Homo sapiens: one gene and its partner. The protein of the gene in region 2 purifies or fractionates together with the protein of the main gene of each other region. This does not show direct contact. Each region holds a gene or a part of one and is shown on either strand. Other genes may lie near its edges.

Region 1 (3,500 bases), on a different chromosome or scaffold from region 2:
GACAGAAACTTACAGAGAGAAAGTGGCTCCCATCTGCAGGTTCCAGAAGCCAGGCTCTTGTCTGCAGGCGAGAATGCTGTGTGGTGTGGCCAGAAACAAGTGTGAGCAGAGCCTGCTCGGCTCTGAGACCAAGCTTATCACCCCTTCCCTGGGCCTGCAGTCCTGGTCTGCAACGACCCCCTGGCCCTGAGGACTGGACAGGGATGGGGCTCTGCATGGGAGGTGTGAGCGGGGGACCCAAGGTGGAGCTGAGAGGCCACCTGGCAGACCCCTCCCAGGCGGGGCCAGGTGTGTGGGCTAGTGGAACATACAGGTCCTTTGCTGTCCACCATGCTGGGAGCGTGGAGGAAGAGAGCAGGCGCTGGACAGAAACACACAACCTGGGGGCTCCTGGATGAGCTCCCCAAGAACTGGAGACTCAGATAACAGGGCAGGGAGAAAGGCCACAGCTGGGGAGCCAGGAAGGGCAGCCCCTGCTGCCGCCCAAGGAGTTGGGTTTAAAGCTGAGTGCAGTGGGACCCTTTGGGGGGCTTCAAGCCGGAGGGGCATGATTGCCACGTTTTTGAAAAGATGCCTTTGGCCGCTGTTTGGGGGATGGCAGCTGGCACCAGTGCAGCTGGAGCGGGGCCTGCTCTGGAGTCTCTGGAGGGAAGCAGAGGCGACCGTGACAGTGACGGATGTCAGGGTAGTGGAGTTGCTGTCAGCTGATTCTGCCACAGCAGTTCAAGCTGGAGCAAGTGCCTGGAAGGAATCAGCACTGTCCTCCTGTCCCTAGGGTCTCGGGGACATAGAACACCTCTCACTGCTCACTGGAGGACTGTGGGACAAGGCAGGTTGCCCCCAGGGTCTCCTGCCCTCCCCTGTGGACTTGGGCCTCCCTGGTGTGCTGCAGTGGAGGTGGGGAAGGTGAAGGCCAAGGGCTTGCAGAGAGCATGGAGCCCGCGGTGAGACAGGGACACGAGGGCAACAAGGACTTTGGGCCTTGCTGTGGGCCTGGCTGGGTCTTAAAGGGGACCAGTGAGGCGGTGCCACAGTTGGGGCAGAGGGTTCCAGTGACGGAGCAGCTTGCAGGGGTTCGGGGAGTGGAAGCCCCGCCAGGGCTCAGGAGAGATGTTGGGGGCAGGGTCTGAGGGCTGGGGAGATGCAGCAGAGAGCTTGGGGGCAGATTTGCCCAGACCAGGGTCTAGACAGACCCTTTAACAGGTAGGCTGGTGGGACACTGATGAGACTGGGGCCTGTGGGGAGAGGAGGAACAGCTGGAGGCTGGGCTCCTGTTCCAGGCTGGCGGTGGCAACCGCATTGCAGGCTGCCTTAGGCATCAAAGGAGGACGGCAGCACTGAGTGAGGCAGGGGCCAGAGGGTCCCAGAGGGACTGCAGAGACCCGCTTCCGGCCTCCAGTTCCGCTGAGCCAGGCTTCCTCCCACCTGCAGCTGGTTCCTCCTCACCCAGGGTCTCTGCAAACCAGGCCCCAACAGGGAAAGCCCCCTGTGTCCTGGTGATCCATCCACAGAGCCCTTCGCACACAGTCTTGCCTCCAGGCCTCAGCGCCCGTGCTGGCCCCCACTTAGGGAGGGAGGGCTACTCCCCTGCCGGCCTGTCACAGAGAAAGCCGGGTGAGCTCCGCAGCGCTGGAGAGGCATGGGGCAGAGAGGGCCTAGTACCCCAGGGAGCACTTGAGTTCATTGTCACCAGCGTGTATTTCTTTGAATTATTTAAAAAACAAACACCGGCAAGGCTATAGCAGCTGAAGTCAGTTTGTCTCTGCTCAGTGTTTAAGGATCAGAGATTTCCTTCCCTTAGGGAGAGGAGGGCAGGTACAGATGGGGGTACGTGCGTGTGCACGTGTGCTCCAGATCTTGTTACAAAATTAATTCAGTCTCACGATTCCTTGGGCCCAGGGGTGACTGATTTTGATGGATCCCAGGGCTGCCCAAGGGCCTCTGTAATGCGATAACCACCTGACATGGTGGGGTCAGGTCCTGGACAGAGCCAGGCGCGCAGTCCTGACTTCATCACACTGCCATCTCATGTGGGAAAATGACGCCATCCATCCCACTAACTCTCCCAGGAAGCGAATTGTAGCGCGGTTGTGTCATCAAGGGGCCCATCAGTGCCGTGGAGGGGGCGCCGGTGTGGGCGGGGTGGGTGCATGTGGGGCCCTGCGGTGGGAACGCTGAAGGACACCTGAACCCAAGCCTGGCGCCTGGTGGCCTTTCTGAAAACGCAGTGGTCTGTGCAGGTCCAGGGCCCCCTCTTGGACCCGCGGGCTCCCTGTGCACGGAGCGCAGACTCACGGGGCCCTTCTGCTTCTAGGAGGGCGTGTGAAGACCTGGAAGCGCCGGTGGTTCATCCTGACCGATAACTGCCTCTATTACTTTGAATACACAACAGTAAGTAAGGGCCAGGCCTCCTTGCCGCCTCCCAGCAGTCCCGGAGCTGCCCTGGGGCCGAGGGACCCTCAGGCTGGTGACCCACAGTGAGCCCCGCCGTGTACTTTCCTCTTGTAGGATAAGGAGCCCAGGGGAATCATCCCGTTGGAAAACCTCAGCATCAGGGAGGTGGAGGACCCCCGGAAACCCGTAAGCTCTTCCTCCTGAACCTTCTCTCCTGCCAGCCACCTGGGAGCCATCCTCACTGCCTGCAGGGAACCTGCCCCAAGCCCCCCTGACCGCCTCCCCTCTCTCTTTCTCCACCAGAACTGTTTTGAGCTCTACAATCCCAGCCACAAAGGGCAGGTCATCAAGGCCTGTAAGACTGAGGCCGACGGCCGCGTGGTAGAGGGGAACCATGTGGTGTACCGGATCTCAGCCCCGAGCCCGGAGGAGAAGGAGGAGTGGATGAAATCCATCAAGTGAGTGGGGCCTCGGGGGCGGGGCCAGGCCCGTCTTCTCGTGCCGGTTGGAGGGCGGGGGATGGTCTGGAACATGGATGCTTCCGTGTGCAAGAGTGGACCTTCTGTCTCCAGAAACCCCAGAGGGCCGGGCTGCCAAAGCCGACGTTCAGATCTGAGCCTGCGGTCCTGTCTGAGGGGCCTCTGGGGCTGGTGGGAAAGGGGAGGTCTGTGTGTCACCCACGACCTAACCTGTGTGTTTTCCTTTTTTCACCAGAGCCAGTATCAGCAGAGATCCCTTCTATGACATGTTGGCAACGAGGAAACGAAGGATTGCCAATAAAAAATAGCTTTCCTGGCTAAAAGACCCAGGTAAAAGACCCAACCCCAGCAGAAAGACACCGCGGGCGGCCCCTCCGCGGAAGGCGTGGCAGGGAGGCAGTCGCCCTGCGGTGCAAGCTGCTGCTCCAGAGCATACCGTGGCCCAGGTGGTATCCCCAAGGCCTCGTGCCGTGGCTGGGGTCCTGGGAGGTGGTCGCCCTGCAGTGCAAGCTGCTGCTCCAGAGCGTACCGTGGCCCAGACTGATCCTCGAGGCCTCCTGCCGTGGCTGGGGTCATGGTCGGCTGCGCATGTCCAGAAGCATTTCCTTCCTGCGACCATCCCGGCGC
Region 2 (5,618 bases):
AGTACTTTGGGGGCTGAGGCGGGCGGATCAGGAAGTCAGGAGTTCGAGACCAGCCTGACCAACATGGTGAAACCCCATCTCTACTAAAAATACAAAAATTAGCCAGGCGTGGTGACACGCGCCTGTAATCCCAGCTACTCAGGAGGCTGAGGCAGGAGAATCGCTTGAACCCAGGAGGCGGAGGTTGCGGTGAGCCGAGATGGCGCCACTGCACTCCAGCCTGGGCGACAGAGCAAGACTCCGTCTCAAAGAAAAAACAAACAAACAAACAAATAAAAAAAAAATTGTGACGATTGATTTAAGCATTTACTCACTGTCAGTATCACAGCCTGCAGGAGAAACCTCCAGAGTATATAGCAGTATTATGTGGGAAGTCTCAACTATTAACAAAATATATAAAACCGCTATCCTACATTAAATCCCCAAATCTTCTTCTAACATCTTGGGTTTTTTGTTTGTTTTTGTTTTGTTTGAGACTGAGTCTCTCTCTGTCACCGAAGTTGGAGTGCAGTGGTGCGATCTTGGCTCACTGCCACCTCGGCTTCCCAGGTTCAAGCGATTCTTCTGCCTCAGCCTCCCAAGTAGCTGGGATCACAGGCAAAAAGCTTGGATCACAGGCGTGTGCCACCACGCCCGGCTAATTTTTTAAGGGCCAGGCTGGTCTCGAACTCCTGACCTCAGGTGATCCGCCTGCCTCGACCTCCCAAAGTGCTGGGATTACAGGCGTGAGCCACAGCGCCGGGCCAACTCTCCAAACATCTTGTAGCCTCGGAGTCAAAGACCTTACTGGTTTTGATAGAGACCATCAACCCAACAGTCATCAATAAAAATTTACCCAAGGAGGTGCTCCCCTAAAAGTCGATTTTTTTTTTCTGACAGGTCCATCAATAAAGTATCAAGAGATTATCGGCAATATTACAAATCACTGGAGTCTGTTTGGGGTTTTCCAGAAGCTGAGCCAATTATTTACTTAATTGTCTAACGATTAACGACACCCCTTGTGCTTTCTGGGCCTGAGTTTCGTAATCGACGCCCTGAGAGGTATACAGTAATTTCAAAACAAAACAAAACAAAAAACAATAAACCATCCCTCGGAATAGAGCTTATCATGTGAGCACCCAGACAAGCCAGCTTCAAAATGAGGTGAAAACTACAGTTCCTCTTCCGTTTATCAGAGTTCTAACTGGGACTACCGTGAACCACATCTACTGCCCGAGGGGCAGGGAGAGCTGCCTCAGTCCCGGGCTTCCCTCTCGGTCCCTTCGCACCGCATCTCCCCGAGGCCGCTATTCCCGCCGCGCCCGCCCAGGGACCCGCACCGCCAGCGCCGTACCCTCAGGTTGGCCCGGAGACCCAGACTCTTGGCTAAGTTCTGCAGGTCACTGTACTTGAGGGAGTCCAGCTCCTCTAGAGAGGGGATGATCATCGCGATTCGAAATCCCGGCGATACTCGGAAGATGGATCACCAAACTTCGTCAGCGCGGTTCAAATCCCTGGCGCCACTCTTAACTTTGACTAGGCAGAAATTTATAGACAGTTTAAATGAAGAATGCCGCGCTTCCATTGGTTGAAAATGCCTCAAAGGCGGGGTTTCTAACCCTGACCAATAGAAAGGCTGATTTCCCGTCCCAACAGAGGCGCGCTTTTTTCACACTTCACGAATACGCAGGCGCCAAAGGGCCTGTAACGCCTGTTCAGGTAACGAGTGCGCGGACTCGGACTCCAGTGCTTGGATTGCCCATGATGTCCAATGAGGACGCAGGAGCTGTGCTTGGGGCGGGGCCTGGCGTGTATTCGAAAGGAAGGCGCCGGCTGCGGGAAGATGGCGGCTCAGCCGCTGCGGCATCGCTCACGTTGTGCAACGCCGCCCCGGGGGGACTTTTGTGGTGGCACTGAGAGGGCGATTGACCAAGCTTCTTTTACGACCTCCATGGAGTGGGATACGCAGGTGGTGAAGGGGTCCTCGCCGCTCGGCCCCGCAGGGCTGGGGGCTGAGGAGCCAGCCGCCGGCCCGCAGCTGCCGTCTTGGCTGCAGCCTGAGAGGTGCGCTGTGTTCCAGTGCGCACAGTGTCACGCAGTGCTCGCCGACTCGGTGCACCTCGCCTGGGACCTGTCGCGGTCCCTCGGGGCCGTGGTCTTCTCCAGTGAGTGCAGTGAAGCGTTCGGGAAAGGCAGAGGCTAGCCCGAGAGGGTGTTCCCGCTTTCTCCACCGGGTGGCGGAGAACCACCTGGGGAAGAAAACGGGATGAAAAGTTGGAAGCAAATAACTCCTTGGCCTGGGGATGGGGCAGGGAATCGGGGAGTCTCCTGATATTTACGGCCAGGATGAGTCTGTCTAGAGGAGAGATTTTCCATTTCAAGGCCCGCAGAGTATGGGTTCTGACCCGTGTTTGTCTTCCTAGGAGTTACAAATAACGTCGTTTTGGAAGCGCCCTTCCTAGTTGGCATTGAAGGTTCACTCAAAGGCAGGTACGTATTGATAATTACATTGGTCTCTAGTCCCTGACTTTATGAGACTGAGGATCGTGGAACTGACATGTACGAGGAGAAAACAGTTTGGGATGCTGCTTTTACCTGTTTGACTCTTATATGAACTTGATGTATTAATGAAATGAAAAAGTTGTATTTGTGTATTGGTTTTAGGATCTTCCTGAGGGCCACTTCTCCCAGGTGGCTTGTACAAGTGAAGTGAGGCTAAGAAAGATGTATCTAGTAGTGGACAAAAGAAAAAAATAACCTTTTGGTTTACAGTGAGAATAACATACTATAAACTACAATCCTTTTAGATATTAGAACTTTTTGATACAGGGTCTTGCTCTCGCCCAGGCTGGAGTGCACTGGTGCGCTCATAGCTCACTACAGCCCCTACCTTCCTGGCTCAAGCTATCCTCCCAACCTCACCCTCCGGAGTAGCTGGGACTACAGGCACACAGCACCACTCCCGGCTAATTTTTAAATTTTTTGTAGAGGCCTTAGTATGTTGCCCACGCTTGATATTAGAACTTTTAAGTTTGCGATTATGGTTAGTTTGTAATAAGCTATGCCAGGGCTAATTCTTCAGTAACCCCAGAAACTGGAGAAAAACACAACTAGAATGTTATGTACTTGAATACTGCCTGGTAAACTTTGCGACCTGCCTGTACTATGATTTACAAGTGACAATAAAGTAGTCAGTGAATTTGGTATTGCAAGGCTCCTCAATTTTGAGTTTTGGCTTTAACATTGAGACAATTCATTTCATTCTGACCAGTTTGATTCAACGTTACGGTTAAAATATAGGAATTCTTAGTTGCTTTGTCCAGTAACCAGGAAGATTTCTGCAGCTTGGACAAACTTCAAAAACGGAGTTAGACCCACAGCTCCCTTTCTTTTTCCTGAATAAAAGACACTCCCTATCGCTATAGGAGTCCCCTTCCCACCCAAAGGGGACAAAGCAAGAAGGAGCAATTGCCTGCTTGGAATTGGGTGTATTCTGGGGCCAGAGGCAGAAGGTTCCTGAATGTGCTCTTGGAGAGGAGGCTAATGAATCTAGACCCGTGCTGTCCTATACTGTAATCACTAGTCATATGTAGCTATTATATATTATTAAATCTGCATTGAGATATGCTGTGAACACAGAATACACACTGGATTTCAAAGACTTAGTACAGAAAAATTAATCATTTACAAATACTGATTACGGGCCGGGCGTGGTGGCTCACACCTGTAATCACAGCACTTTGGGAGGCCGAGGCGGGCGGATCACAAGGTCAGGAAATCGAGACCATCCTGACTAACACGGTGAAACCGTGTCTCTACTAAAAATACAAAAAATTAGCCAGGCATAGTGGCGGGCGCCTGTAGTCCCAGCTACTCAGGAGACTGAGGCAGGAGAATGGCGTGAACCCGGGAGGCGGAGCTTGCAGTGACCGAGATTGCGCCACTGCATTCCAGCCTGGGCGACAGACTCCGTATCAAAAAAAAAAAAAAAAAAATACTGATTACGGCTGGGAGCGGTGGCTTACGCCTATAATCCCAGCACTTTTGGGAGGCCATGACAGGCAGATCACCAGAGGTCGGGAGTTCGAGACCAGCCTGACCAAAATGGAGAAACCCTGTCTCTACTAAAAATACAAAATTAGCCGGGCATGGTGGCACATGCCTGTAATCCCAGCTAGGCTGTAATCCCAGGAGGCTGAGGAGGGAGAATCGCTTGAACCCGGGAGGTGGAGGTTGTGGTGAGCCGAGTTCACGCCATTGCACTCCAGCCTGGGCAACGAGAGCGAAACTCTGTCTTAAAAAAAAAAATTGATTACATGGTGAAATGACATTTTTGATATATTGGGTTAAATAAAATATTTAAAAACTAATTTCACCTGTTTTTATTTTATTTTTTAAAGCAAAATTAGGCCAGGCGCCGTGGCTGATGCATGTAATCCCAGCACTTTGGGAGGCCAAGGCGGATGGATCACGAGGTCAGGAGTTCAAGACCAGCCTAGCCAAGATAGTGAAACTGTTTCTACTAGAAATACAAAAATTAGCTGGGCGTGGTGGCGGGCGCCTGTAATCCCAGCTACTTGGGAGACTGAGGCAGAGAATTGCTTGAATCTGGTAGGCGGGGGTTGCAGTGAGCCAAGATCATCCCACTGTACTCCAGCCTGGGCAACAGAGCGAGACTCTTCCTCAAAAAAAAAAGCAAAATGAATAGAAAATTTAAAATTACATATGTGACTCACATTATATTCCTATTAGACAATGCTTGTTTAGATGCTTTGTAAAAAACTGGAGGAAGGCCAGGTGCAGTGGCTTACACCTATAATCCCAGCACTTTGGGAGGCCAAGGCAGGCAGATCACAAGGTCGGGAGTTCGGGACCAGCCTGGCCAGTATGGTGAAACCACGTCTCTACTAAAAGTACAAAAATTAGGGGGGCGAGGTGGCAAGCGCCTATAGTCCCAGCTACTTGGGAGGCTGAGGCAGGAGAATGGCTTGAACCTGGGAAGCAGAGGTTGCAGTGAGCCAAGATCGCACCACTACACTCCAGCCTGGACGACAGATCGAGACTCCGTCTGAAAAAAAAAAAAAAAAAAAACTAGAGGGAAAGCCCCATGTGTTTCTGTATTTGTGGAGTAAGATGAGCTATATGGGACTTACGAAGAGGGTTATGAAATGGCACAGCTCAAGACAACTTGATTTTTTTCTAAGTGTAGGTTCATTACCTAGATGGGGTCAGAGAATGAATTAAGAGGATGATTAATGATGCAGCTAAAAGAGCATAAATTTTAGAGACAGCAGACTCGGGTTCTTTTTATTCTTTTTTTTTTTTTTTTTTTTTTTTTTTTGAGATGGAGTCTTGCTCTGACCCAGGCTGGAGCACAGTGGCGGGATCTTGGCTCGCTGCAACCTCCGCCTCCCGGGTTCAAGCTATTCTCCTACCTCAGCCTCCCGAGTAGCTGGGATTCCAGGCGCACGCCACTATGCCTGGCTAATTTTTGTATTTTTATATTTTTAGTAGAGACGGGGTTTCACCATGTTGGCCATGCTGGTCTCGAACTTCTGACCTTGTGATCCACCTGCCTCAGCCTCCCAAAGTGCTGGGATTACAGGTGTGAGCCACCGCACCAGGCCTTAACTTTACTC

Evidence for each region. The genes of interacting proteins can lie anywhere in the genome.
Region 1: the proteins of OIP5 (region 2) and CYTH3 purify together in Homo sapiens (affinity purification with mass spectrometry; 4 studies listed by BioGRID and IntAct, with this or other methods). This does not show direct contact.

What each region holds. Positions count from the first base shown.
Region 1 is NC_000007.14:6,164,625-6,168,124, reverse strand, and holds part of CYTH3 (cytohesin-3), read left to right. Parts: intron 1-2,314; coding exon 2,315-2,391; intron 2,392-2,508; coding exon 2,509-2,580; intron 2,581-2,697; coding exon 2,698-2,852; intron 2,853-3,108; coding exon 3,109-3,181; 3' UTR 3,182-3,500. UniProt on the Homo sapiens protein: Promotes guanine-nucleotide exchange on ARF1 and ARF6. Promotes the activation of ARF factors through replacement of GDP with GTP. Plays a role in the epithelial polarization.
Region 2 is NC_000015.10:41,328,766-41,334,383, reverse strand, and holds the start of OIP5 (protein Mis18-beta), read left to right. Parts: upstream 1-1,792; 5' UTR 1,793-1,822; coding exon 1,823-2,144; intron 2,145-2,402; coding exon 2,403-2,469; intron 2,470-5,618. Other genes in the region: NUSAP1 (nucleolar and spindle-associated protein 1), read right to left, coding at 1,334-1,426. UniProt on the Homo sapiens protein: Required for recruitment of CENPA to centromeres and normal chromosome segregation during mitosis.